Homo sapiens: one gene and its partners. The protein of the gene in region 4 interacts with the protein of the main gene of each other region in a pairwise test. Each region holds a gene or a part of one and is shown on either strand. Other genes may lie near its edges.

What was found.
Region 1: the proteins of GRSF1 (region 4) and HIVEP3 interact in a two-hybrid assay, tested with the Homo sapiens proteins (one study listed by BioGRID).
Region 2: the proteins of GRSF1 (region 4) and DACT1 interact in a two-hybrid assay, tested with the Homo sapiens proteins (one study listed by BioGRID).
Region 3: the proteins of GRSF1 (region 4) and NOP53 interact in a two-hybrid assay, tested with the Homo sapiens proteins (one study listed by BioGRID).

The regions. Positions count from the first base shown.
Region 1 is NC_000001.11:41,579,923-41,586,945, forward strand, and holds part of HIVEP3 (transcription factor HIVEP3), read right to left. Parts: intron 5,397-7,023; coding exon of another isoform or gene 5,384-5,396; 5' UTR 4,876-5,383; coding exon 1-4,875. Other genes in the region: uncharacterized LOC128125817, read right to left, coding at 5,384-5,396.
Region 2 is NC_000014.9:58,640,952-58,647,974, reverse strand, and holds part of DACT1 (dapper homolog 1), read right to left. Parts: intron 6,384-7,023; coding exon 6,228-6,383; intron 2,718-6,227; coding exon of another isoform or gene 2,607-2,717; coding exon 841-2,606; 3' UTR 1-840.
Region 3 is NC_000019.10:47,748,523-47,755,545, forward strand, and holds part of NOP53 (ribosome biogenesis protein NOP53), read left to right. Parts: intron 1-1,655; coding exon 1,656-1,764; intron 1,765-2,385; coding exon 2,386-2,585; intron 2,586-2,997; coding exon 2,998-3,068; intron 3,069-3,989; coding exon 3,990-4,085; intron 4,086-6,004; coding exon 6,005-6,109; intron 6,110-6,186; coding exon 6,187-6,369; intron 6,370-6,825; coding exon 6,826-7,001; intron 7,002-7,023. UniProt on the Homo sapiens protein: Nucleolar protein which is involved in the integration of the 5S RNP into the ribosomal large subunit during ribosome biogenesis. In ribosome biogenesis, may also play a role in rRNA transcription.
Region 4 is NC_000004.12:70,836,879-70,844,206, forward strand, and holds the start of GRSF1 (G-rich sequence factor 1), read right to left. Parts: upstream 3,013-7,328; 5' UTR 2,950-3,012; coding exon 2,593-2,949; intron 2,384-2,592; exon of another isoform or gene 2,302-2,383; coding exon of another isoform or gene 2,299-2,301; intron 2,268-2,298; exon of another isoform or gene 2,114-2,267; intron 1-2,113. UniProt on the Homo sapiens protein: Regulator of post-transcriptional mitochondrial gene expression, required for assembly of the mitochondrial ribosome and for recruitment of mRNA and lncRNA. Binds RNAs containing the 14 base G-rich element.

The DNA of each region.
Region 1 (7,023 bases), on a different chromosome or scaffold from region 4:
AGAGGACCTCCTATCTGCATGCTGGATGTGATTTGGCTTAATGTAGTTTAAATAGCACCAACTGACATTAGTGGTTGTGTGGAGGCTGGGGAACTGCAGTACCTTCTTTGAGTCCGTACCTTCTTGTGACTTGGCTGGTCTGGAGGACGTTTCTGACAGAGGCAGAGAGCTCGGAGGTGCCAAGGAGGGGAGATCAGGTTGTTCCTTGGAATCTTCTTTCTTCACGCTCAGTGGGGTCAACCCTCTTCGGTGAGGTTTGCCAGATGGCTGGGGATATTCCTTCAAAGCTTCTGAGCCTGGGGCTGTCCCATGGGACAATGCAGGGTGAGGGAGGGGAGGAATTTCCTTTGTGTCAGATGGATCTGAGGACAGGCTGGACAGCATTTCTAGCTCCCTCCTGCCTTGGCCCTGGTTGCCTAAGTGGGATTTCTCTGGCCTCTTCCCATCCTCGGTGCTGGTAAGGACCACACTGCATGGTTTTACCAGCTCAAGTTTTTCATCTGCCTTGGAAGCCTCCTCCTCCTTCACTCTTTTTTGCTGCTGGGTTTCCATGGTAAGTTCAAGGCTGCCAGCTGGTGAAAGGACACGTTTGCTTCCCCCTGCTGTTGATGAACTCCCCTCCAGGCTCAAGATACTCTCTGATGACAGGGAAGTGCCTTTTCTTTCAGGTAATGTCACAGGCACTCTCAGGTATGGAGTTGGGAAAGCTCTGCTTTGCTCTTCACTTAACCCAGAAGGGCCGGGCCCAACCTCATGCACATCTGCACCACATACAGTCGTCCCCTTTGATGGGGGTTCCTCAAACTTGGGAAGTGCCACAGTTGCTGAGCTGCCTTGGGACTGGGTGACCAAGATCTGGGAAAGGGTGGTGTACATTGCGCTCCCATAGGACGGCATATTGGTCTGAACACGGACAGGCACAACCAGGGACACCATGGTGTCTGGACAGGCAGGCAGGGCCAGTGGAGGAGCTGATGTAGGTGCTGAGGAGCTGGCTGGGGGAGCCACAGGGGGTAGCCGGATGTCACTGCTGTACTCTGTGCTGGGGGAGAGGCCAGCACTTCCTGTTGCCAGTGGGGCCAGGCTGGTTTTGATCTGGGGCAGATGGCTTTCCACATCACCAGGGAGCTGAAGTGCAAACTGGGATTGCAGAGGCAGGAAAAACCCAGAAGACAGTGCTGAGGAGGTCGGGTATGGCATGGGGAGGAAGGAAGGGGGCTGCCTGAAGGGGATGTTGGCTGGGTGAGGCATGAGCTGGGGGAGATGGAGTTGGCCTGGGTGCAGAACAGTAGGCTGGAGAGGAAGCGGTGGGGCTTGAAATAAGGAGGGAGGAAGTGGGGGCATGGAGTATGGTGAGGACAGGAGGCTGGACATGGCCTGGGTGGAGAAGAATTCTGGAGACTGTCCTGGCTCATGCTGCACGAGATGCTGGAAGGAGAAAAGGGAGACTGGTGGGGGCAGGTATGGCTTCTCATGCAGGGGTGTCTGGGCAACGGGGTGGTGGAACACTTGCAGTGCTTCTGTGTAGGGCACAGTGGGCCCCAATGGGGGCCTGTCCTGCCCTGGGCCCTTGCCTCCCGGGGGTCCACCATGTGAGGTGGCCGCAGAGGAAATCTGGGACAATGAGCTTTTGGCAGAGGGTTTACTGGATGAGGGCTGTGGTTCTTCGCTCTCCTGTCTTCCCTTGGGGGCAACCTCCAACTCAGATTCTGGAGGCCTGCTCAGAGAGGCCTGTCTCACCAAGAAGCATTTTCTTCTCTCTGGCGGGGCCACCCGCGCTGGTGGAGCCACTGGGGCTGGAGCAGAAGGGCCTGTCAAGGACAAGCTGCCATAGTCAAAGGATTTGCTGCGTGTCTCGGTCATGTGGGCAGAATGGGAAACGTTGGGGCTCTGCTCTGAGGCTGACCTCCGCATCTCTCGGGCATGTGGGTGGTGGCTGGGGACAGTCAACATGTGGGTGCCCAGGGGTTTGGGGCGCATGTCAGATGAGGGACTGGGGGCCTCGGCTTTCCCATGGTCATCCCTCTCAAACGAGGCTGAGCGGCTGGACCCACTCAAAGAGACATTGCTTTCCTGGCTCGGGCTGCGAGACAGAGGCACAGAGGACTCGAAGCTGGACTCCCCTGATGATTGGGCCATCTCTGCCAGGCGCAACCTCTTCTTTTTGGGTGGCAGCTTCTCAGCTGGGAGCTGGGCAAGTGTCTGGCTGCGCTGGGGCCATTGGAACTCCTCAGTCTTCTCAGGTTCCTTAGGGGGCGGCTCTGGCTCTGTGTCCGGCCGGTCAGGCTCCTCAGTTACTAGGATCTCAGGAACCTGAATGTTGGGCTGGCGGACCAACTTAGGCTGCAGGGAGTGAGCAGAGCGTCCGTGTGGGGCAGGTGGGGGTGATGGGAACTGGGCCAGAGGTTTGTCTTCCCCTTCCAAGCCACTCGGCTGCTCGAGAGAATCAGATTTCTCAAAGGAGCTGGTGTGCTGGATGACAGAAATTTCTTTGGACGTTGTTCTCCTCTCCTTCCCTGATTCTGAACCGGACCCTGGCTTGGGAGTCCTTGGCTGGAAGCCCGTGGGTCCCTCCAAGGAGGGCACTGATTTACTTGGTTCTGCTGGTGACTTGGTGGACTCCAGGGGAAGGTTCCGAGCAGCATCAGATGGCCCGGGGCTGCCAAACTGACTTTTTGTGGACTCAAAGGCAGGTGGCTCTTCCTCGTCCCCAAGGCTCTTCTCTTTCCTCCTCTTCCTCAGTGGAGTGAGTTCCAGGGTGGTTCCCAGTTTGTAATGCATCATTTGGGACCACGGCTCATGCTCAATCTGACTCTTTTCAGCTTCTGGAGATGTGTGGGTGCCTGCAGAGATGGGCTTTGCGATCTGAAGCTCTGAGCAGTAGTATTTTTTGTGGGCTTCGTAGTTATCCCTTTTCTTGTACCGAGCACCACATATGTTACATTCGTAGATCACCCCTTTTGTTTTCAAACCCTTCTTGGTCTTTTTGGTAAGCTCGCTTTCCTTGGGTTCCACTTCGTCCGAGGGCTTGGAGGCTGTGTCTTTGCTGCTTGGGCCAGGCTCCTCAGAACTGTATTCCCCTCCCAAAGGTAATTCGATTGCCGGCTGGCGCTTCAGCATCCGGGGGTGGGAGGTAAACACGTGACTGCTGTGGCTCAGGGCTTCGGAGTCGGTGATATGGTCATCGAAGGAGTAGCTACCTCGGAAGGGGTGGTGGGGGGTGCTGATAGTGCAGGCGGCAGAAGGCATTGAGTGGCTTCTCAGGAGAGGCACAGGGGGGGCGGTACTGGGCGGGTGCTGGAGGCTCAGCAGTGATTGTTCAGGCTTGGTTTTCTCACTGTGGGATGACAGGGGCTCCCGGTAGAGGCTGGATTTTGGGGACTCCATGCTGCTGCGCCTGGACAGTGAGCTCCGCCTTGGCTTCACGCTGTCGATCTCGCTGGTGTCCACCACGGCCTCGTTGATGGTGATGAGCTTCGTGATGTGCTCGATCACCTGCGTCCGGGGTACAGACAAAGGCACCAGGCTGGGCTTGTCTTCGGTGGACAGGGGCAGGAGGGGCTGGGTGGAGGTGGCTGTCAGCATGGCGGTCCGCTGTCCTATTCGCCCACACTTGCCAAAGATGATCTCAGCGTAGGACTTGGCGTTGGTGTTTGGGGGGCTGACCTGCTGCTCTGCACTCTCGGAGCGAGAGAAATACCCAGACTCAGTACTCCCTTTGCTGCCTGGGCTCAGAAACGCCTGCTCATCGATCACCTTCTTCCTCTCGCTTAAGCGGAGGGCCAGCTTCTGCTTAATCGTGTGGGTGTCTTCAGGTTTATGGCTCAGGGGGTGCTCAGATGAGGGTTCCACAAATGGAGGGGGGTCTTCGAGTGACTGGGCTGTGCTGGACTGGGACAGGGAACAGCGTTCGTGGCTGGAACTGTGGCTCCCAGAGCTGTATAGCCCGCTGGAGAGAAGGGGCTGCTTGGGTCTTGGGGAGAGCTCTGCAGGGTGACCAGAGGTGGCACTAGTCTCCTCTTCAGAATCTGTGCTTTCTCCCTCAGTGGGCTCCTCAAACTCTTCCCCAGGGATCCGCTCCATCTCCAGCCCATGTGGGTACATCTCGCCACCCATGCCTGAGGCCAGGCCTGCTTTGATGCGGTGGGCATGGGACTTCCTGTGCTTGTAGAGATTACTCTTGGTCTTGAAGGAGAAGCCACAGGGGCCGCAGGGGTAGGGCCTCTCACCTGTGTGTGAGCGAATGTGCTTCTGGAGCACGCTGGGCTTGGCACAGGGCCGGCTGCAGTACTGGCAGATGTACTTGCCTGGCTTCTGGGGCTTCCTCTCCTTCTTGTGTGCCTCTTCTGTGGGCTTCAAGGAGACCTGGGAAGGACGAGGCACGAAGACTTTGGGGACTCCAGGAAGGTCCTCGGGGGGAATGATGGAAGCGTGGGAAGGAAGGAGCTGGCTCTGAGGATGGAGCCCAGGGGCCACGAAGGAGCCAGAGGGTCCAGGTCTCATGGGGTCAACCAGTTGCCATGTGGACCCCTCCAGGAGATGCTCAGGTTTGCCAGGCGACATGAATGCTGGTGTCAGAGGGTGCTGCGGAAGCTGTGAGATGTGGACGGATGCTTCGATGGGGGGCCTTTTGGGGGGCTTCTGCTGCTGGCCCGTTTTCTCCTGAGAGCCTTCCCTAAGAACTGATGAGGGGCCCGGGAAGGGCTGCGGGGCTAAGAGCTCTTGGGCGGGGCTCTCTTGGGTGGCAGCTGTGCCGCTGCCTGGGTATGGGACGCTGGAAGAAACACTGGTCTGAATGGCCTCTCCTTTGGTCAGCCGCTTCCGGGGACTTCCCTCAGCCTTCTTGGTGCCCTTGACACTTTGTTCAGGATCCATGACCTTCACAAAGACTTCAGATGCTATTCAGGGAGAGTCAGGGCGGGCTGCATTTATGAATAATCCCAGTGTCCCAAGGAGGTGTCCAGCTTTGGCCACATTGGTCAAGAGCTGTGGGAGCCAAACCCAAGACGGCTTTGGGAGTTTTTTGCAAGTGTCACTGGCTGTGAGTGGACTCGGAGCAGGTCATCAGGGCCCACGCTATTCTATTGGTGAGGCATGGCCCTCTACTTTGCAGACAGAAAACGCACCAGCACTTTCTGCCTGAATGTCTGTCGGGAAAACGTCATGAAGGATGTCAGTATTGCCATTGTATTGTTTCAGCTGGCAGTGGCAGGTGGCCCCCACGAGTCCCCCGTGTGCTATGCAAACGGTTGAAGGTTGGAGACATCTGTGTCCATGGCCCAGTCATCCCTGGTCCTGGCACAAGAGATGCCACGCTGGATGCTGGGGGTGGCTCTTCTCCCCTTTAGTTCTGGGTTGGAGATCAACGGCCTTGGAGGAGAAATCACGCTCTTCTTCTGTGTGATAGATGTACACACACACAGAAATACACACACACAAAAGAGAAGACAGAGTTACTGGGACTCATGCACAGCCTGGGCAGCCCAGACTCGGTGCCACACCTGGCTGAGACCCCTCAAAAGTTAACCAGGGAAACTCAAGCAGAACCACAGGCTCCGGCTCCACATGTCCAAGCCCTGCAATTCTTTCCTCCCCCGCTCCCATGTCAGTGTTGGGTGACCTGAATGCCAGTGTGTTTCTGAGGACTGTGGCCATGTGGGATGCTGAGAACAGAAGGCAAAGTGGGCTCTGGGAACTGCAGGGTGGTTAGGGACAGAGGCCTGGGCTCTCATCTCTGTTTTGTGATCCACTCTGAGTGGGTCTAAGCTCTCTAAGCCTCAGTTGCCTAATCGGTAAAACAGATAACAAATCCTGCCTCGACTGTGCCTCGGAGCTGCAGTGGGCCCAATGACATTGGAGATGCAGATGCTGCTGGGTGAACTCTGGATGGGGCCATGGCTGGTGCAGGAGGGAAGTGCCTGTGGTTTATTCAGGGGTGAGTTTTCCAAGGGGTAGATTATTCTCAGGTTAGTATTTCTCTCTGGCCCTGGGTTCTGAAAGTGTCCACAAGGGACATCATTCACTGCTTTTTACCCCATTGCTAACCCGCACCCCAGCCCATGTTTGAAGACAAAACTGCAAACTACTGCCACAGCCTGTGAGAACTTACAATCTGACACAGCTGTGACCATTTGCTTGATCCAAGCAATTGCCAGGAGGATCATTCTGGAAGGTTCCTCTGGCTTTGCAGCCTTTCCTTGTCCAGTCAGTGCCCTGGGGATGCCATGGAAATATGGGGATCATTGCCCTCAAGTGGAGGAGCAAAGTTGGTCTGCATATAGCCCCAAGTGTGTGCCTCCTCCTAGGGCCAGCTGCAAGCAGGGCAGTCTCAGCTTCCTGGGCTCAGGTGCATCCTCAGGGCCCTCCTCCCCAGGAACAGGGTCGGAATCCCAAGGCTGGAGTCACCATGGACTCCATCTCACCCAACCACCTGACTTTGGACATCATGAAGATGGCTTACTGAAGGTCCCGTGTTGCTAACAGGCAGTGTTGCCACCTGGACCCAGGCCTCCCATGGCCAGAGTTTGTTCCCCAGCCCCTTCTCAGGTGTCCATCCCCTGGCATCCCTTGGCGAGGCCCTGGGTGAGTGATGAGCATCTCTGTGCTTGCTTTTTCTCCTGTGAGCATGCCCTACCCCCGGCATCCTGCCCTCAGGCTCCCCTCATGCTCACACTCTTCGTTTCACTAGGTGTGTGATGATACAGACTTGAAAATGCCACTTACTACATTTTTGCAGGTGCTCAGAAGACGAACAAGTCTTTAAGACTCAAATAATTGTCTCTTAAAGGGCAGGGCCCTCGGACACTGTGATATGCTTTGGAGGAGCAGGTGATTTGATCTTTTAGCTAAAAAGCATATCCTCTAAGTTCACTCCTTTTGTGTGCCTTTTCTACTTGGTGCTACAAAGAATTCAAAGTAACTATAACAAAACCATATTTATAGAAGAATGACAAACTATAAATATGAGAAAATCATAAATAAGAATAACAAATCAGAACAAAGAAAATGGAAATAAGGCAAAAA
Region 2 (7,023 bases), on a different chromosome or scaffold from region 4:
ATTCTGGGATTGGAGTCATGCCCAAGGGTTACTTCATTAATAGTGAATGTCTCTGTGCCCAAGGACCAAAATTTTATCCCAAAACTAAATCCTCCAAGGAATGAAAGGTTGGACTGGCTACAAATTAGGGAGGGAAAAGAAGGCATCTAAATGTTGGATAAACGGCCCTAGAAGGGGTTATTAGGAACAGGGCCTAGGCACCAAGTGTGGCAAAAGTTTTTGTGAATCCTTTTAAGGTCCCTATCGAGGCTGCTATCTCTGGATTTAAGGTTTGGCCTCCAAGTCATGAGTCTAGTAACAGTTCTGAGAATAAAACCGAATGGGGATACATCTGAGAAATGTAGACTACATAAAAAAACTATAGAATACAATGACTGCCCCTCATACCTACTTCACACTATTGTATGTGGTGCCCCTCAACAGGAAAACCCTCATGGAGACACTGCCCTGAAGACTCAAGGAACAAATATAAATCCAAAAATTCCATCCACCTGACCTTGGGATCAAAAGATCTTATCCCAATAAAACTTGAACATCAAAACCTGTACCTTGCCGGATGCTCAGAAAGTTTAAAATAAAAAACAGCTGGTGCCACAAAACTCACTATCACCACCATTAAAACCTCAATATGTACTTCTAACTAGCAAAACATTCTTTACCTTCCATTAAAGGCACTAGCATCCATACGTGAAGATGAAACAATAATTTACCTTGGTTTTATATTTTTTTAAAAAGCATTCCATTAAAGTATTATACAAAAATGAAAACACCACCTTTTTAATTTTGGCAACTAGGGAGAAGAAAAAAAAACACACAAACTTTCTACACCAATGATGTCACTCAAACCGTCGTCATCAGTTTCAAAGAGCCAGACCGAAAGCGGAGGATCTTCTTCTTGAGGTTATGTGAGGCCTTAATTTTGACAAAGGTTTTTGCGGGGTGGTTGTGAAGGTCTGGGGCCGTTACCGTTTGAATGGGCAGAGTCTGGACAAACTGGGACCAAATTAAGCCCCCGCTTTCTTCAGAGTCGCTGGTGGTTGTGCTCTCCCCCACGAACTCGCCCTCGCTCACACTCGACTCGCTGTCCCCGAAGCAGTTGGTGGTGTAATTGCTCTGCTCGTCCTCACTGGTGTCCACCACGGTGGAGTGGAACAGGGACTCGCACTCGGCCGAGTACTCGGAGTCGCTAGCCACGTAGGCGTAGGGGCTGGCGTAGGGCAGAGGCACAGGCGCGGGGTACAGCCCCACATTCTCCCGGCGACCGCGCCGGGCCCTCCTCAGGGCCTCTTCGTAGGAAATCTCGGCCGAGGACTTCCACCGCCGGTAGTCAGTTCGCTTGTGCTTAGGTTTGGCCACCACCGCCTCCCGTCCGTGGCCATGCGCCCTGCTCCCCGCCCTGTGGCCCCCGCCCGCGGGCCTGCCGGGAACACCAGCCTCGGGCCCGCCCCCACTCTTCCTCCCCTTGGAGGAGGCTTTCTTGAGTTTCTTATTTGTATCCAAGTCATCTGGGAAGCGACACTTCTTGCTCCCGGCCCGCGTTTTCTCCCTGACGGTGGGCAAGCCGTTCTCCAGCCCCTGGAGGGCTGGGCCGCGGTGCTTCAGGCTGGAGTTCTTCACGACGCCCATGTTCCTGTGGCCCCGGTGGAGCCTGACACTGGGCTGCTGCCCCGGGATAAACTGGGCCTTGACCAGGTGCGCTTCCTCCAGGCTTTGGGAAGAGCCCTCGCTCTTGAAATCCAAGGCAGGCCTCTCTTCCACGGGGAAAGCTGTAGACAGCAGGGGAGGAGTGGCCGGGGGGACGCCCTGCAGGCTGTTTTTCTGTGACATCTTTTTCAGGGGCTGTACAACTTTGTTCTCCTGCGGCGGGGCAGGGCCTCTGCTAGGACTCTCTTTTGGAGAGGCCCCTGAGAGCTGAGCGCTTTCCTTAGGGGACTCCCCTGTCCCAATGGCGGAACACCGAGCATGTTCTTGCGAGGCTGGCTTGGCCGTTTTTGGCAGGTGCTTACTCTGAAGGTCGGAGGCAGCGCCTGAGGGGCAGCCCTCTGGCAGGGGCACCCTCTTGCTTTCGGCTTGTTCGGCCTTTGATTCTTTCGACCACTGCTTCGGTGGGGAGAATGTCCCATTGTTCAGAGAAGGTATCCCGCCAGAGGGCAGACACGCCTGTTTCGAATTCTTAAGGTTCACACTGTTGCCCTGTGAGACACCGCCCGGGGCTCTGACACAAACGCTCCCGTTCCTCAGAAGCCCTTTCGTGGGGTCAGCGTTCACGCTGGTTCTTGGTTTGTTGGTCCTTACAGGGTGTGTTTTTTTCTGGACCAGGCTCAGAATGTAGCCATCCATTTTCTTGCTGGATGAAGGATGGGAAGCAGACCACAGACTGCTTGGGGACGGTAAGGAACTGTCTGTTTTGACGGCATCTAGCTCAGATCCACCGCAAATGTCACTGGCATGGTTTCCAAGCCTGTCCTCTTCCCTCAGAGGGTTGCCCGTCAGACAAAGGAGAAACATTGGGCTCTGCACAGCCACAGCATGAAGTGGACTGGGATAGCGATATACATCATTCCCGTTTTTAGACACCAGATCACACTGGTACTTGGGATTCACATCTGCAATGACATCAAGGGAATTAAATTGTGGTGTGGAGAGGGAACGGCAAACTGCCCCTGAGGCCTGGTCTTCACAGTGGCCTTCTTTATATTCCAACAATCCTATGAGATCTGAAAAACAGTTAAAGGTACACTCTGAAGAAATGAATTGGTCAGCACCAGCTTGACTCTTTGGCCAATTTTTATGAAAAATCCATGGGTAAAAAGAGATTGCCAAGGATTAAAAAGTGCTGCCCTACCATTTCACATGTAGGTACTGCTACTGGATGAGGGGGAAATATTTAACAAAAATTTTTGACAGCATATGATATATCCTCTGAAGGAAAAAAATTCAGCCATTAAGAGTGTTTTCAAACTACTGCATAATAGAGGGAAAACACTTTAAAGTTTAGTGAAAATCATGATATAATACTAGAATATGATTATAATCTTATTAGGATCACATGTATGCAAAGAAAAAACATCTGAGATGAAGCACACCAAGATTCTAGTAGTAGTATTTCAGAATGATCAGAAGTAAGTGATATTTACTTTCTTCTTTATTTTCTGTTAAACTGTCTGTACTGCGTTTACAACTGGGAAACATTTTTTGAATCACTGTTTCTCTAGGCTGCTCTCCCCTCTGTTCTATTCCTGGCTTTCTTTAGGATAAACTGTACGTTCAGTAGGCTTTCTCCTCATTTTGTGTTTTTTTAAACCTAATTCTTAATGACATCCATTCAAATATAACTGTCAATTGAAAGGTGATGGAAACTGATCAAACTTCAGTAAAAACTGATCAGATTTAAATAATAATCGCCTTATGTTTTCAATAGTGATGCTAAAAAAATAAAACAGGGGCCAGGTATGATGGCTCACGCCTGCAATCCTAACACCAAAAGGCTGAGGCCAGAGGATCGCTTAGGCCCAGGAGTTCGAGACCAGCCTGGGCAACAGTGAGACTCCATCTCTCTACAACAAAATTTTTAATTTAAAAAAACTTTTTTAATATGATAAAGAATTCTTGATAAGATTTTAAAAGATTGAGTGGTAGTATTAATGGATAAATTTCCCACTTGTCAAAAATGTTTTTTTAATAGGATAAAGAATTCTTGGTAATATTTTAAAAGATCATGTGGTAATATTAATGGATAAATTTCCCATATCTTGAAAATGTAGATGCCAAAGTACAGCAAAATCAAGCTTGCTGTCTTAAAGGATTTTGATCTCTTAAGTTGGTGAATATTATAAATAACAAATCCATTTAATGACCTTCAGTTATCAGAGAAAATTAAAGTTGAGTTTATCAGTAATAATTTGTCCTCCATTGTATTTATTCATTCAAATACTGAGAACCTATATGTGCCTGATTCTATGTTGAGAAAGCTCCATAAACTTCAATGATAATTAGCGGTCTCAGGGAAAAAATAGTCTAGACCCAGAGATGATATGTAAAGAAAACATAATAAAACAAAAGTGCCATGTCCCCACCCACATGACCCCCCCCAATAAAGAGCTTGTTCTAAAAGGAAACCTCTCTAGCTAACATCCTTCCCCATCCTTCCTCTCCCAGCAACGTAAGCCCTATCTTTGCCTTACTTAAAGCCACACTGACAAACACTTCACTATTCATCCCTTTTCCCTCTTTAGAGTTGAACAAAACAGATATCCTAGCCCCCAAGGCCTGGTGCAACTGTCTCAATTATGTGAGGAAGTGGCATTTGGAAGAGCACGGGTCTGTCTTGAAGGAAAACCTAAACCAAAGTGCCTTTAATGGGTTTATAAAGTTTCCCTCTGAAACCAGATCTGTGGAATGAAGGGGAGCAATTACCAATGAACTTGAGGCCCAGACCCTCTAGATAACACAGTTCTGTGCTTCCTCAAATGATTGCTGCTGACAACACACAGATATGAAGACACCAGCCAATTAGCTCCCTCAGCTGCTCAGTGTTGTTTGCCTTGCCTGGACTCAAAAATTCAGGCTTATACCCAAGTGGAGAACACAGACAAACCAGGAGTGTGATGACTTGTGCCCAGGACCCAGAGCAATTCTAATCTTCATATTTTCTCTACTCTTATAAGAATTCACAATGTAACAGGACTAAGGAAGGAGTCTTGAGTTCCAGCAGCAACCCTGCCATTCAGCAGATGGAGAACCTCTGACAATTAGCTTATAAGCCAAAATTCCTCTTCTGTTAGATGAGAAGGTTGAAAACAACAATTTCTGAATTCCCTTGGGATGATGAAAAACGTGGACCTGGCAGTTAGGCCTGAGCTTAACTTCTGCCTCTGCCACTCACCATCTATAGAGCCTTAAATAACATATGTAACCTTACTAGGACTCATTTTTTTAATACATAAAATGGAGCTAACAAGACCTGTACTGTGCACGACTATTGGGAGGATTCATTGGAGATAAATACATACAGAGCATCCAGTAGTGTGTGACACATACTGGAAATGCAGAAACTCTTCTAGTACAATAGCATGATTCCTTCTGGGGGTCATTGCAAAGATATCCCAAAATAAGGAATAATGGCATGTGGGCACCCACTTAAAAGAAAAAACAAGCTGCCATCATGCAGAACATTCTGGAGAACATGAAAGGGCCATTGCTCCCTGAAGTGCCAACCAGTTCTTGGCCAGGCTGATGGACATATTTAACTTAATGTGAGTGTTAGACTGATTGATTGATTGAGATGGAGCCTCACTCTGTTGCCCAGGCTGGAGTGCAGTGGCACAATCTCGGCTCACTGCAACCTCCGCCTCTGGGGTTCAAGTGATTCTATTGCCTCAGCCTCTCAAGTAGCTGGGATTACAGGCACATGCTGCCACACCCGGCCGATTTTTGTGTTTTTAGTAGAGACAGGGTTTCATCATGTTGCCCAGGCTGGTCTTTTGTTTTTTGTTTTTTTTTTCTCTCTGCCGCCCAGGCTGGAGTACAGTGGTCCAATCTCGGCTCACTATGACCTCTACCTCCTGGGTTCAAGCAATTCTCCCTCAGCCTCCCGAGTAGCTGGGACTATAGGCATGTGCCACCATGCCCGGCTAATTTTTGTATTTTTAGTAGAGATGGGGTTTCACCATGTTGGCCAGGCTGGTCTTGAACTCCTGACCTCAAGTGATCCACCCACCTTGGCCTCCCAAAGTGCTAGGATTATAGTCATGAGCCACTGCACCGGGCCAACCCAGGCTGGTCTTGAACTCCTGACCTCAGGTGATCCAGCTGCCTAAGCCTCCCAAAGTGCTGGGATTACAGGTGTGAGCCACTGCACCTGGCTGAGTTTTAGCTTTACATAATTAAAAGAAGAAAACAGTTCCAAAATGAAAGAAAATACAGACAACCTAACAGCAAAGGCTCAGAAACAGAGCTCAAGACCTACAATATTGGGACAGGATTTCTAGAGATAAAGTGTCTTGCTGCTATCAAAATATATAACCAAGTAGCACCCAAAGGGTACTGGAATAGTTCTAGATACTCACCTAGATGAAACTGAGTTCTAGATGTAAGTATGGCACTAAATGCCGCAAAGTGATGAACCTTCATTTTTCCACCAGTGAAAGGTGCTGGAGCCAAATAACCTTTTAAGGGCCCTTGATGCCTTCCAATTAAAAATTTCTATCAGTGCTAAAAATTCTTACCTGCAGATTTGGGGCAACCATCTGAGAGACTCAAGGTCGCCTCCAAGGGGCTGCAAAAGCAGGTGCTGGAATGACAACTGGATAAACACTCACTGAACACCGAGTTAGAGGAATTGGAAAGGGATCCTGAAGCCCCATCACTCAGCTCATAAAACCCTACAAATAAAAACACCGTTGGAATTAACATCATGTCAAGAAATAATGCATATTCACGCTTAACAGGAAAATGAATAATCATTTAGGAAAAGGAGATTTTTTGTTTGTTTTTTGGCCAATTTTGATTCATTGGACTTTGGTGTCCTAATCTTATGGTCTTATTTCAAACAATCCTTAGGAAAAGGCAAAGAGCCCATAACTAGGGGTACATTTCAGAGTTACCCTCACCCTCAAATTGACCTTATTCCTTGACCCCGCCTTTGAACATGTCCAAGGAAAGAAACTTAGATCTGTCAAGCCTCATCTTTATCATGATTGTTTCAGAACAATAATAAGAGAAAAATCTAAGGAGCCCAAATGGTTTAAAAGAAAAAAAAAAAAAACTTTTGAAGTGGTCTCAGGAAGTTGAAGTGTGACTAATTTTCTAGCCCAGTTCTGACTTACTCAAGTTTCAAAGGAGGGCACCTCTTGCAGAAATTTGAATAGCTTTTATTTTTAAACTTGGGGGACTCCAATCACATTGATCTCATTACTAAAAATTTTGTTGTCTGAGTTTATTTCCCTCTTATTCCGATAAAACTGAATGGCAGACTTCTTTTTTGTTTATCCTCTCTGCACTGGAAACAAACTCCATTGCCAT
Region 3 (7,023 bases), on a different chromosome or scaffold from region 4:
CGGACCTGGTTCAGTGACCAGATAGAGTGGAAGGAGCTGCCCTGAGGTACAGGAGACTTCCAATAGGCAGGTAAAAAGTGGTTATTAGAGTCTGGGTGCAGTGGCCTACACCTGTAAGCCCAGCGCTTTGGGAGGCCGAGGTGGGGCGGATCACTTGAGGTCAGGGGTTGGAGACCAGCCTGGGCAGCATGGCGAAACCCCGTCTCTACTAAAAATACAAAAACTAGCCGGACGTCATGGTACACGCATGTAATCCCAGCTACTGAGAAGCGCTTGAACCCGGGAGGCAGAGGTTGCAGTGAGCCAAGATCATACCACTGCACTCCAGCCTGGGCGACAGAGCAAGACTCTGTCTCAAGCTGGGCGTGGTGGCTCACGCCTGTAATCCCAGCACTTTGGGAGGCTGATGCGGGTGGATCACCTGAGGTCGGGAGTTTGAGACCAGCCTGACCAACATGGAGAAACCCCGTCTTTACTAAGAGTACAAAATTAGCCGAGCGTGGTGGCGCATGCCTGTAATTCCAGCTACTCAGGAGGCTGAGGCAGGATTGTTGCTTGAACCTGGGAGGCAGAGGTTGCAGTGAGCCAAGAGCGCATCATTGCACTCCGCTCCAGCCTGGGTTACAAGACTCTGTCTCAAAAAAAAAAAAAAGTGGGGGGTTATTAGAGAAGTCAGCCTTGACCGAAGTGAGTTGATCTGGTGTGTGAGTGTAAAGGGTAAGTCAGTGACCTGCCCGTAATGAACAGATGGGAAAGTAGTTACCGGCGTGCTTTGGCGAGTGGGAAGCCTCTTTGGGGGGCAGGAAAGAGGCAGTTTATGGGTTCCACTTTAGTAAGGAAACACGGACAAAGATCATAGTGGTTGTGAGCAGTCAACCAGGTCAGCCCCTGTGCTTTGTGGGCCTTAAATGATTACATCTTCATAACGGCCTAGTGAGGGAGGTATCCACATCCTCATTTTGGGGGCACGGAGGAGCTAAGCCTCTTGTGTGAGGTCCCACAGTCCATGCAAGGGTGTTATTCCATTCTAGAGTGTTTTGCTGTAGAGTTACTGCTTTTAACTGTTAGGCTTTTGAAGTAAAAACCACAGGTATCTTTGTGGGAGGAAAAAGACAGTAAAAACCAGAGAACTAGAAGTTATGCTGAGAAGTGGCCATCCTGGGTCCCAAGTCCACTTCTGTGGCCCTCCCTGGGCTTCAGTGTCAACTGATGACTTGCTTTCTTCCTTTTTTTTTTCCCCCTGAGATGAGATCTCACTATGTTGCTCAGGCTGGCATCAAACTCCTGGGCTCAAGCGATCCTCCCACCTCAGCCTCCCAGAGTGCTGGGATTACAGGCGTGAGCCACCATGCAGGGAAGAGGTTCCCTGTTTGTCTGGAAGACCCTCCTATGTGGCTGTGGGCGTGACTCTTCGTGTCCCCAGCATGGGGCCTGCCTCCTGCTGGCCCAGCACTTGGTTGTGGAGGGTCAGAGCTTGGGCACCTTGGGCCCCATCCTTAGGGGCCTCTACCTCCAGGTAGGAGCCTGGGGACCTCCAAGTCTCCTGGGGTGACTTGGGATTCAGGTCTGATGGCTCCCATGGAGGTGAATAGGGTGGGTGGTCTTTGGCAGTGGGTAGGGCTGAGGCCTTGACTTGTTCTCTTTCCCATTCTTAGGGCTGACAAAGAAGAGAACCAAAGTCCAGAAGAAGTCACTGCTTCTCAAGAAACCCCTTCGGGTTGACCTCATCCTCGAGAACACATCCAAAGTCCCTGCCCCCAAAGAGTGAGTGTCCCAGCATCCCTGGGCCCTTCTTTCCCACCAGACTCTGGTCCTAAAGGGTTTCCGGGGCTGGGGGCTGGTAGGTGAGGGTCATTTGAAGGGTAGGGCAGGCTCAGGTTTGGGCTTCGGAGTGCAGATTAGAGGGAGGGAGTCTGGGTGCCCTGGTGCTGGGCCGAGGCAGGTGAGGAGGGGCCTGGACCCAGCTGGGGGCTTCGGGGTTGGAGAGGAGGGGCTGAGTGGGAGGCGTGTTCAGGAGGCACATCAGGTGGGTCTTGGGGCATGAGCGGGTGAGAGGGTGGACAGCTGGCCTTCCCCTGAGATGGGGATGTGGAGGAGTGGGATTTCGGGTGATGCTGAGGTTGGTTTTGACGTGGTGGTGTGAGGTGCCTGGGGTATGTCCAGGACGGGGCTGTTGCTTCGTTGAGTCTGGGGCTCAGAGGGGAGGCCTAGGCTGGAGACAGACGTGGGGAGAGGAGTTCTCTGAAGAGGGGGCGGAGTGCCACCTTTTGGAGAGGGGGTGCTGAAGCTGCCTTAATGGTGGAGGAAGCCCGACGGGGAGGAGGCCCTGCTGCCGTTCAGGCTGCCACCTCACCTGCTGCACTTGTGCCCCCTCTCCCCGACCAGCGTCCTCGCCCACCAGGTCCCCAACGCCAAGAAGCTCAGGCGGAAGGAGCAGCTATGGGAGAAGCTGGCCAAGCAGGGCGAGCTGCCCCGGGAGGTGCGCAGGGCCCAGGCCCGGCTCCTCAACCCTTCTGCAACAAGGGCCAAGCCCGGGCCCCAGGACACCGTAGAGCGGCCCTTCTACGACCTCTGGGCCTCAGACAGTGAGTGATCCTGCTGTCACCTATGAATGGGGACAGGACGGCCATGTGCAGTTTGTGTGTGTTGTGCACTGCACGAGAGTACAGTGTGAAAGGGAGTGCTTTGTGGGTGCTTTGGTGACCTCCCAGCAGAGTCGTGCGTCCTGAAGGGGCGGCCGTTTCCCACTCGTGCTTTTCCTTTCCTGAGTTGTGAGGCTTCAGGAAAGGAAGCCTTCAGCTTTGGTCTCTTCCACTTTCTGAACCCGTCCAGACACAGTTTTGTCCTGGTGATCAAGGCCCTTGGGGTCTAGAATCAGTCCTTCCCTTGCCTGAGCTTCAGGGTCACCTTTTTGAAATGTGGAGGGATTGGGGGGGAGCCTTTGGTGCCTCTTCCATGCTGGGACTGTCCCAGCAGCTCCCCTCGCTGTATCCACAGACCCCCTGGACAGGCCGTTGGTTGGCCAGGATGAGTTTTTCCTGGAGCAGACCAAGAAGAAAGGAGTGAAGGTGAGATGTGTGGGAAGGGCATCCTGGGTGATGGGAGGGTGAGGAGGGCCGGGAGCTGCTCTGTGTTCCTGCAGTAGAGTCTGTCTCAGAGCCCTTCCATCCCAGTGGCCGAGAACTCTGTGCTGGAGCCAGGTGGCTGGGATTCCTGTCCCAGCTCCAGTGCTGACTGATCCTGGGAAGGTGGTCTCACCTTTCTGCAACCTATATCTTCCTCTAAAATGCAGATGAGGGCCGGGCATGGTGGCTCACGCCTGTAATCCCAGCACTTCGGGAGGCCGAGACAGGTGGATCACCTGAGGTCGGGAGTTTGAGACCAGCCTGACCAACGTGGTGAAACCCTGTCTCTACTAAAAATACAAAAAAAAAATTAGCTGGGCTTGGTGGCACGTGCCTGTAGTCCCAGCTATTAGGGAGGCTGAGGCAGGAGAATCGCTTGGACCAGGGAGGTGGAGGTGGCAGTGAGCCGAGATCATGCCACTGCACTCCAGCCTGGGCAACAAGAGCGAAACTCTGTCTCAAAAAAAAAAATAAAATAAAATACAGATGAAATTGTACTTAGATCATGGGTCGGTGGGGAGAATGTAAAGAGGTAGCACATGAGAAGGTGGAGCCCGTGCTGGCAAGTGGCAGAAGTGTCACGGGTTTGAGTTTGGATTTGCAGCCTCCTTCTTGAGCTGCTGGACCCCAAGTGTTAGAGCCCAGGTGCTTACAATCTCCGGGGCTCAGCCTCGTGGGTAGCAGAGGATAGGCTGCTATCCTTTTTCTGAGATGGAGTCTTGCTCTGGAGTCACCTGAATGCCCCTTGAGCTCTTCCCACACCCAACCACTGGCAAGGCCTGGAGCATCTGCCCCATGGCTGTGTCCTGGGTCACCCGCAGCCCCAACGCACGGCCTTACCCTGCCTCGGCCTTTTCTCCACAGCGGCCAGCACGCCTGCACACCAAGCCGTCCCAGGCACCCGCCGTGGAGGTGGCGCCTGCCGGAGCTTCCTACAATCCATCCTTTGAAGACCACCAGGTACACTGCCCCGTCCAGGCCTCCCTCCTCAGTGGGCTCTGCCTCTTGGTCAGGCCTTCACTAGCTTCCTCCCTGTGCTGGGAACTCCAATGACCCAGACAGCCCTGGGCCTGTCCGCAACGGGGCTCACGGTCCAGTGCAAGAGACCTGTTCCCAGACAGTGATGGGCAGAGTGGTTGGGGCTGGGAGCCCAGACGGGGCACCTGGCCCAGCCTGGGGGGTCAGGAAGGGCTCCCGGGAGGAGGGGTCGCCTGAGCCGAGGCAGAGGCTGAGGGAGGGGTTTGCAGTGGGAGGAGGGGAGTGGGTTTTCCAGGTGGTGGGAACAGCACTGCAAAGGCACAGAGTTGAGAGAGACCGTGGCGCCTTCCAGGAAGCCTGTGGGGCAGAGATGAAAAAGGCTGTGGTGACACGGTGGCACACTGGCAGCCAAGTGACAGTTATATATGGGCGAGGCTAGCTCAGCGATGGGAAAGTCTAGCTGGAGCCACTGTGCATTTAGCGGGCATCTGTTGAGCACAGATGCTGTGGACAAAGGGGACAAAAACCCCTCCCTTGGCCGGGTGCGGTGCCTCACACCTGTAATCCCAGCACTTTGGGAGGCTGAGGCGGGCAGATCATTGGAGGTCAGGAGTTGGAGACCAGCCTGACCAACATGGTGAAACCCTGTCTCTACTAAATACAGAAAATTAGCAGGGCATGGCAGCACGCATCTGTGGTCCCAACTGCTTGGGAGGCTGAGGTGGGAGGATTGCTTGAGCCCAGGAGGTCCAGGCTGCAGTGAGCTATGATCGCACCACGGCACTGCAGCCTGTGTAACAGAGCGAGACTCAAAAAACAAGCACAACCCTCCCTCAAGGAACAGCCCTTCTCATGGGGTCACGTGACTGGAGAGATGCTGAGATGTTTGCGGTAGATGCAGGACCGCTTGTCCGAATCGTTTTCAGCATTCATAAGAAGGAGATAGCTAGCCAGGAACAGAGGCAGCTTCCTCATCTGGTAGAGAAAAGTGTCTGCGGAAAAAAGCAACAGTGTGCTCATGGTTGAAAGCGTGAGGGTGCCGCTCACTGCCATCTGTTCCTGGACCAGATGTGGGAGGGGGCGTGGAGATCAGACATTCACTTTTAGATTTGTACAGAACTACTTCGTAGAGATAAAATTCACTTAACCATACGGTCAGCCTAGTTAGAGTATGTGATTCAGTGGCTTTTAGTGACCATTGTGTAACCATCCCCGCAGTCAATTTTAGAACATTTTCACTGTCCGTAAAGGAAACCTCACACATGTCAGCCATCACCCCCGCAATTCCCTGTCTCGTGTGGTCTTGGGCTGCCAGGCTTCCTGTCTCAGGGACCAGCCCACCCTGACCAATTCACATAGATGAAACTGTGGGCCGGGCATGGTGGCTCACACCTGTAATCCCAGCACTTTGGGAGGCCGAGGTAGGTGGACCACCTGAGGTCAGGAGTTCAAGACCAGCCTGACCAACATGGAGAAACCCCATCTCTACTAAAGTTACAGAATTAGCCGGGTATGGTGGCACATGCCTGTAATAGTAGCTACTCGGGAGGCTGAGGCAGGAGAATCGCTTGAACCCAGGAGGCGGGGGTTGTGGTGAGCTGAGATCACACCATTGCACTCCAGTCTGGGCAACAAGACAGAAACTCTATCTCAAAAAAAAAATGTGAAGCGTGCAGGTCAGACTGCCTTCACAGACGTGCAGAGCAGGTGTGAGGGCGAGGGTTTGAGGTGCCCTCTGGCTCTGTGCAGGGTGGGTGTGCTGGTAGACGGGGTGTGGGGAGGAAAGCCTGGGCCGGGGCGGGATCCACGGGCACTGGATGAGGGACAGATGGGAGGTAAGAGGGTCTAGTCTCAGTGTCCCAGGAGGGGTTCAGGGACCCATCCTCACTCCCGCCCCTCAGACCCTGCTCTCAGCGGCCCACGAGGTGGAGTTGCAGCGGCAGAAGGAGGCGGAGAAGCTGGAGCGGCAGCTGGCCCTGCCCGCCACGGAGCAGGCCGCCACCCAGGTGAGCCCCGCACCTGCCCACTCCCTCCCCTCCCCGGGCCTCCTACCCACCCCTGACACTGCACCCCGCCTCCCCAGGAGTCCACATTCCAGGAGCTGTGCGAGGGGCTGCTGGAGGAGTCGGATGGTGAGGGGGAGCCAGGCCAGGGCGAGGGGCCGGAGGCTGGGGATGCCGAGGTCTGTCCCACGCCCGCCCGCCTGGCCACCACAGAGAAGAAGACGGAGCAGCAGCGGCGGCGGGAGAAGGCTGTGCACAGGCTGGTGAGCGCCTGGGCCAGCGGGGCCTGCCTCTGATGCCTCGCCCCCTTCCTTCCTTCCTCCCACCATGGGCTGCCCTGGGTGCTGCGGGCAGCCTGCACACCCCAAGCCCCGCATGTGGCCTGTGGTTTGGGCTGTTTGGGATCCTCACAGCTGAGACTCATTTCCCAGCCTCTTCCAGGCAGGGCTCGGGCTGGGGTGGGACAGGGTCCCTGGCGCTTCTGTTTGAGGGGCGGGGTGGGGGGAGGTTTCTGCACCGCAGACCAGGGGAGATGGATGACAAAAGGGGCTTCAGCAAACAGCTGCTGGGAAGGCACTGGAGGGGCCGCTGATGTGACGGGGTTAGGAAGGGCCTCCGGGGACAGGCAGGTTTGTGCAGGGAAGGCTCCCTGTGTAGAGAGAAGGTCTCCCTGTGTGGGCAGCACCGGCCTGAGCCCTGACCCTCCCCCGTCTCCACAGCGGGTACAGCAGGCCGCGTTGCGGGCCGCCCGGCTCCGGCACCAGGAGCTGTTCCGGCTGCGCGGGATCAAGGCCCAGGTGGCCCTGAGGCTGGCGGAGCTGGCGCGGCGGCAGAGGCGGCGGCAGGCGCGGCGGGAGGCTGAGGCTGACAAGCCCCGAAGGCTGGGGCGGCTCAAGTGAGAACCAGGCCGGGGGTTC
Region 4 (7,328 bases):
CCAAATGCCCATTTGAATAACAGCAATTAATTCCAACTGTTTAAATTAGGAGCCAAAGAAGGTGACCTGGCAAAAGAGGTTGGTACCATAGAGCAGAGGGCCTTGAGTGTGGAGCTCAATGTGTGTCCTTCACTTGGTAGGCAAAGATAAGTTAATACAAGACACTGAGGACTGGGTAAATCAACAAGACAGCAGGACGCCTTGGGAATATTCCTCTGTCAGCTGGTATGCCAGACCAAGTGATTAAGGGAAAGATCTTAAAGACAACGGCAGCAGTGTGAGGCTACAGACTTGTAAAGTCTCTTTTATCGGATTAAGTAAAACTGGAATTTAGTAAGAATCCACGAAGCACTACAACCATAACCTAAGAAGACAACTCAGGCTTTAAGACTTGCACTCTACTGGGCCAGGTGCGGTGGCTCACGCCTGTAATCCCAGCACCTTGGGAGGCCGAGGTGGGCGAATCACGAGGTCAGGAGTTCAAGACCAGCCTGGCCAACATGGCAAAACCCCATCTCTACTAAAAATACAAAAAATGAGCCGGGTGTGGTGGCGTGTGCCCGTAATCCCAGCTACTCGGGAGGCTGAGGCAGGATAATCGCCTGAACCCGGGAGGTAGAGGTTTCAGTGAGCTGAGATCTCGGCATTTCACTCCAGCATGGGCAACAGAGCAAGACTCCGTCTCAAAAAAAAAAAAAAAAAAAGACTTGCACTCTACCGGACTAAGGACAGAGATATCTTTCTACTATCTGTCATTTTCTTTTCTTTTCTTTTTTCTTGAGACGGAGTTTCGCTCTTGTCGCCCAGACTAGAGTATAATGGCACAATCTCGGCTCACTGCAACCTCCCCGGGTTCAAAGGATTCTCCTGCCTCAGCCTCCCGGGTAGCTGGGATTACAGGCGCCCGCCACCCCGCCCGGCTAATTTTTTTGCATTTTTTTAGTAGACACGGAGTTTCACCATGTTGGTTAGCCTGCTATCGAACTCCTGACCTCAGGTGATCCACCCGCCGCAGCCTCCCAAAGTGCCGCGCCCAGCCCTATCTATAATTTTCATTAAGGCTTAATGTTAGGCCGGGCGCGGTGGCTCACGCCTGTAATCCCAGCACTTTGGGAGGCAGAGGCGGGCGGATCACGAGGTCAGGAGATCGAGACCACGGTGAAACCCCGTCTCTACTAAAAATACAAAAAATTAGCTGGGCGCAGTGGCGGGCGCCTGTAGTCCCAGCTACTCGGGAGGCTGAAGCAGGAGAATGGCGTGAACCCGGAAGGCGGAGCTTGCAGTGAGCCGAGATCATTCCACTGCACTCCAGCCTGGGCGACAGAGCGAGACTCGGTCTCCAAAAAAAAAAAAAAAAAAAGGCTTAATGTTTAGTTTTAAGGAATAAATGTAAGCAGTGTCTAACACATAGTAGATGCTCTACAGATATCACCGCAGTCAATTTCATAGAAAAAAAAAGAGAGAAGCTAGCTCACAAAGGTTTACTGGAGATGGTTTTGTTGTGGTTTTTGTAGACAACTTTCCCCATTTTTCCATAATTCCATAAGCATCACAAGCTTTTACAGAAAAAGGCAGCGTAAAGTATTGGGCCAGGATTCAAATCAATTAGCTCAGCCACTGGCAGACAGCAGCCATGCTGATTAGCCTCCCAGTCTCCCTAAGTTAAAGGAGAAGCACAAATTGAATTAAGATAAATATGACCTAAGGAATCAGGGGCTGGGTAGTTAAAAAGTGTGCAGACACTTCCCAGATGCCACGTACCAAGAAGAGAAAGGTTCATCTACAAAGCACAAAATATTTGCAATCTAACTACACACCGACTTTTCTAAAAAAATAAAGAAAAAATGGAAAGGAAAACATTGCAAATTCATTCCTGGGACCCCAAGTTGTGTCCTCAACCCTCAACGCTCCCTCCCATTCACCCCCTCCCCCCAACAGCTAAATCTCCAAACTGCTTTCCCAGACGAGGCGACACACAGTCCTTAAAGACCTTCTGTATGAGTGGAGTTGCAGAGGTGACCTTCAGTAAACCGGGACAGCTCGTCTTTCCCTGGGGACAGGAGAGGGAACGGCGCGATGGGGACAGGCTCCTTCCCTACAAGCCAGCCCACGCAACTGTGTGCGCGCACCTTCCCAGCAGCGGCCGACCGAGAGGCGCCGAGGGCCGCCCAGGCCTAGCGCTCGGGCTGCACGGAAACTCCCAACCCTCCGGCGGGCTCGGGCCTCGCAACTTCACAACCAGCCGGCGGAAAGCAAGAAGATGCGAGGTGGGGGCGTCAGCAGCCTCACGAAACCTACCATGGGCCAGGCGGGGAACAAGGCCTCAACATTCACCCCAGCCACACTTACACTGCCCAACCGACCAGAGACTCGAGGCGAGAACAAAACAAGCAGAAGACCCGACGCCTGGGAGAGCTTCCCTTGTTCCAGGGCCCAATAGGAGCACAGGGTGGACGGGGGCGGGTGTGCGGCGAGTGTCGCGGATCCCCGGGCGTGCCCGCGAGGCGCACACGGAGGGACGGAGGGGCGCGGGGGCGCGTGCACGCGGCCCGGGAGGGATCTCGCGCCAGGTCCCTCACGGCGCCCACGTACCTGGCTGTAGCTGCGCGTCGGGACGGCGGCCGCCGCCGCCAGCGACTGCGGCAGCAGAGAGGCACGGAGGGCAGAGTAGGACGCGGCGGCCGCGGCCGCGGCAGAGGTGGCCACAGCGGGAGGCCCCGCCAGCCTCCCGGGAGGCACAGGCCCGGTCTGGAGGCCACGCGTCTGGGAGGCAGCGGCCGCGGCGGCCCCGAGCAGCAGCAGCAGGCGGCGGCGGCCCGAGACGCCCGACGGGATAGAGCCAGCGGCGGAGTAGAAGGGCAGGCAGGCGGCGCCGGTGCGCCGGCAGCTGCTGCAGTTACAGCCGCAGCCCCGGAGCAGCGCCCCGAGTACCCAGCGCGTGCCGGCCATGGACTCCGGAGGCGGCGCAGGGCCTGAAGGCAGCTGCTCCAGCAGCGATGGTGGAACGGAAGTGGAATCCAGGGCCGGTTGGGGGTGGGGTGTGCCTGGCACATGCGCCGCGGGCACTGGGTGGGGGGCCTCCGAGAGTCGGAAGGAGGTGGAGGAGAGCGCGACGCTCCGCCCAGTCTCCGCCCTTGGGCGGGGCTGCCCATGGTTTGGGCGGGGCTGCCCATGGTTTGGGCGGGGCTGCCCATGGTTTGGGCGGGGCTGCCCATGGTTTGGGCGGGGCTGCCCATGGTTTGGGCGGGGCTGCCCATGGTTTGGGCGGGGCTGCCCATGGTTTGGGCGGGGCTGCCCATGGTTTGGGCGGGGCTGCCCATGGTTTGGGCGGGGCTGCCCATGGTTTGGGCGGGGCTGCCCATGGTTTGGGCGGGGCCCGGGGAAGTGGGTGCAATCGAACTGCTCTTTTTTCAGGCGGTGGAAACTGAGGCCCAAAGTAAGTGAGGCTAGGGGCCTGGCGCAGTGACTCATTCGTAGTGACTCATTCTTGTAATCCTAGCACTTTGGCAGGCAGAGGCGGGTGGACTGCCTGAGGTCAGGAGTTCGAGACCAACCTAGGCAACACGGTGAAATCCCGTCTCTACTAAAATACAAAAAATTAGGTCGGACGCGGTGGCTCCCGCCTGTAATCCCAGCACTTTAGTAGGCCGAGGTAGGGCGGATCACCTGAGGTCAGCAGTTCAAGACCAGCCTGGCCAACATGGTGAAACTGTGTCTCTACTAAAAACACAAAAATTAGCCGGGTGTGGTGACGGGTGCCCGTAATCCCAGCTACTCAGGAGGCTGAGGCAGGAGAATCGCTTGAACCCAGGAGGCGGAGGTTGCAGTGAGCCAAGATCGTGCCACCGCACTGCAGCCTGGGCGACAGAGTGAGACGCCATCTCCAAACAAACAAACAAAAAAATTAGGTTAGGGCCATCCTGCTCTGGGTAGGGCCGAGAGCTGTAGCACAAGTCTGTGCTGCCCTGCGCTGTGCCACCGAAACCCGTGGTGTGAGTGGCTAAAGAACCCTTTCTGAAAGGAATTGTGATACCTTGGTTATAAAAAAATCGTTGGGATAATATCAGAGATTTGGTACCCCCCGAATTTGAGGTATGTGAGGAAGGAGAACTTCGTTGTTTTAAAATGAAATATAGGCCTGGCGTGGTGGCTCATGCCTATAATCCCAGCGCTTTGGGAGGCTGAAGTGAGAGGATCACTGGAGCCCAAGAGTTCCAGACCAGCCTGGGCAACATAGGGAGACCCCGTCTATACAAAAAATAAATAAAGCTGGGTGTGATGGCGTGGGCCTGTAGTCCCAGCTACTTGGGAGGCCGATTGCTTCAGCCCAGAAGGTAGAGGCTGTGGTAAGCTATGATTGCCACCACTGAACTCCAGCCTGGGTGACAGAGTGAAACCCTGTCTCTAAAAAAATAAAAGAAAACATATATATTTATTATGTACTGATAATACATAACAAAGGTGAACCCTCCCCTAATGAAACTGTATTCACAAGTGAACACACAGAGATTTGCACACACATACACAAAGACTGGTTGTGCAGCTTTTCTCCTCCTGAGCCAGGACTTGTCAAAGACAAGCAAAAGGAAGTTGTTAGAGTAAAAAATAAGAGAAAGCTAGTATTTTTAAAAACTCCTTACTGTGGAAAATGTCAAACAGAAGAGCAGAATGAATTTCCAGAACTTCATAAATTGTCAACACTTTTCAGTCTTGTTTCATCTATCCCCTACCACCATCTTCCAGACCTTATTTTCTTTGCTAGAATATTTTAAAGCAATGGGTATTACATTTAAAGTTTGACTTGTTTAACCTGGACTACTTTTAGGTAAGGAAAATTCAGTATTTCTTAGAAAACCCTTTCCCCAACCAAAAAACAAAGAACAAGAAAAAAATTGATAGGCTTGGCTCTATGAACCTGGAGTATCAAAGAAAAAGGGGTTTAGTTTTGTTTTTTGGGCTAAAATACAGTCCGACGGAGAGTATTGTCATTTTTATACAAAAACAGGGACAAAAGAAAAGGCAACAGTGCAAATACTCCATCTTCCAGGAAGGGAGGCTGGGATGCCTCAGTGTTAAAATGACAAAAGAAAACCCCAGAGCAAGAACCATGATCCCTCAGAGGAGTCCCAGAAATGTCCAAGACAGCCTGGCTGGGAGAGGGGGTGTGGGAAGGGCAGGCCCCCAAGAGAGGTCCCCACATCCTCTGGCTAGAGGCTAGGCCCAGGACCCACCAATGCCAGCAGCCCTCACCTCCCTTTGGGGTGAGAGCAGGTGCTGAGGTCAGGCTGGTTTTTGTTTCCCACTGCTTGTTCGTGATTTGTTCTTGGATACCTGGAAAGGGGCCAGTTGAGGCCTCAGGGGTTGAGGCCCCTCTGGAAATGTGGTTCCTGGGAATGGGCCTGGACATAGAAGCCACTGGATGTCTCTTCCCTGAACAGTAATTTTGTTCATCAGTAATCCTGTAACTTCCCAAGGAAAACAAAGAACAGGCTAGTCTTCCCCACCCCAGCCAAAAAAGAGAAGGGGGTTTCTTCATCTGCAAGATTTGGGAATCCTAGAGTTACTTATTTATATAGAGACAGGGTTTTGCTCTTTTGCCCGAGCTGGGGTGCAGTGGTGGGAATATGACTCACACTAGCCTTGACCTCCCGGGTTCAAGTAATCCTCCTGCCTCAGCCTCCCAAAGTGCTTGGGATTACAAGCATGAACCACCACACCTGACCTATTTTTCTTTTCGTAAGCCTCCCTTTCAAGAAGGAAAATGGGTTAGCCCTTCCTAACAGATCATCACTACAAATAACAGGTTGCTGATGTATTGGAGACTCTGCCTATATTTACTCTTGCCCTCATTTTCTTAATAGCAGCAGTCATCATCTATAACATAAAAATCTGAATGGATTGGAAACCTAAATAGACAGAAATCCTGTACTTTATAATCAGGAGTATAAATAATAAGAGGCAGCCTGGGCAACCTGGCGACATCCCGTATCTACTAAAAATACAAAAAATTAGCTGGGCGTGGTGACACCTGCCTGTAGTCCCAAAAGGTCACACGCTCTCTCACAGCACAAACTGACCCTAAAACCGGAGCCCACAAGGTTGAGGCTTCAGTGAGCTGAGACCGCACCACTGCACTCCAGCACTCCAAAGTAGCACCTGCCATCCTCATGACAGAGTGAGACCCTGTCTCAAAAGTAAATAAATAAATAAAATTAAATTATAAGAGGCCATTGGTTTGGACTGAGCTCTTCTACTATGCCCAAAAGACCAAACCAAAATGCAGTTACTCACCTTCCACAAGACCAAGCTGAAACTAAGTTTATTTGACCTTCTGAGTAATCAGGAGAGACAGATAATGGCCAAATCCTCAAACAGACTGGTGTTAGCTGGCAGGATAAGGAAGGCCCCTTTGCTTTGACCTTTATAGGGAAAATACCTGAAACAACCAATCTGCTTTGTATTCTCTGTTTCTACTTTCCTTGGCCCTTTTCTATCTACAAACCCAACCTCCTTTGCTCAGCTCATCAAAACACTCACTCTATAGAATGAGATGTTGCCCGATTCTAGAATAGAAAATAAAAGCCAATTAAGATTTATAAAAGCTGAGGCCGGGCGCAGTGGCTCAAGCCTGTAATCCCAGCACTTTGGGAAGCCGAGGTGGGCGGATCACCTGAAGTCGGGAGTTCGAGACCAGCCTGACCAACATGGAGAACCCCCTCTCTACTAAAAATACAAAATTAGCTGAGCATGGTGCGCATGCCTGTAATCCCAGCTACTCAGGAGGCTGAGGCAGGAGAATTGCTTGAACCCGGGAGGCAGAGGTTGCAGTGAGCCGAGATCGTGCCATTGCACTCCAGCCTGGGCAACAAGAGCGAAACTCTGTCTCAAAAAACAAAAAAAAAAAAATTTCTAAAAGGCGTGTGCGGTGGCTCACGCCTATAATCCCAACACTTTGGAAGGCCGAGGCGGGCAGATCACTTGAGGTCAGGAGTTCAAGACCAGCCTGGCCAATATGGTGAAACCCCATCTCTACTAAAATACAAAAATTAGCTGGGCATGGTGGTGTACACCTGTAATCCCAGCTACTTGGGAGGCTGAGGCAAGAGAATCGCTTGAACCTGGGAGGTGGAGGTTGCAGTGAGCTGAGATCGCGCCACTGCATGCTAGCCTGGGCGACGGAGAGAGACTCTGTCTCAAAAAAAAAAAAAAAAAAGATTTGTAAACTAAATTCATTGTAATTTTGTCTTTTGACAGTTCTGGCAACTGACAAAGGGACCTAAAGGACACTGCTGATGACTTCTGAGACTCCCGGAGGAATATCAGAGAGG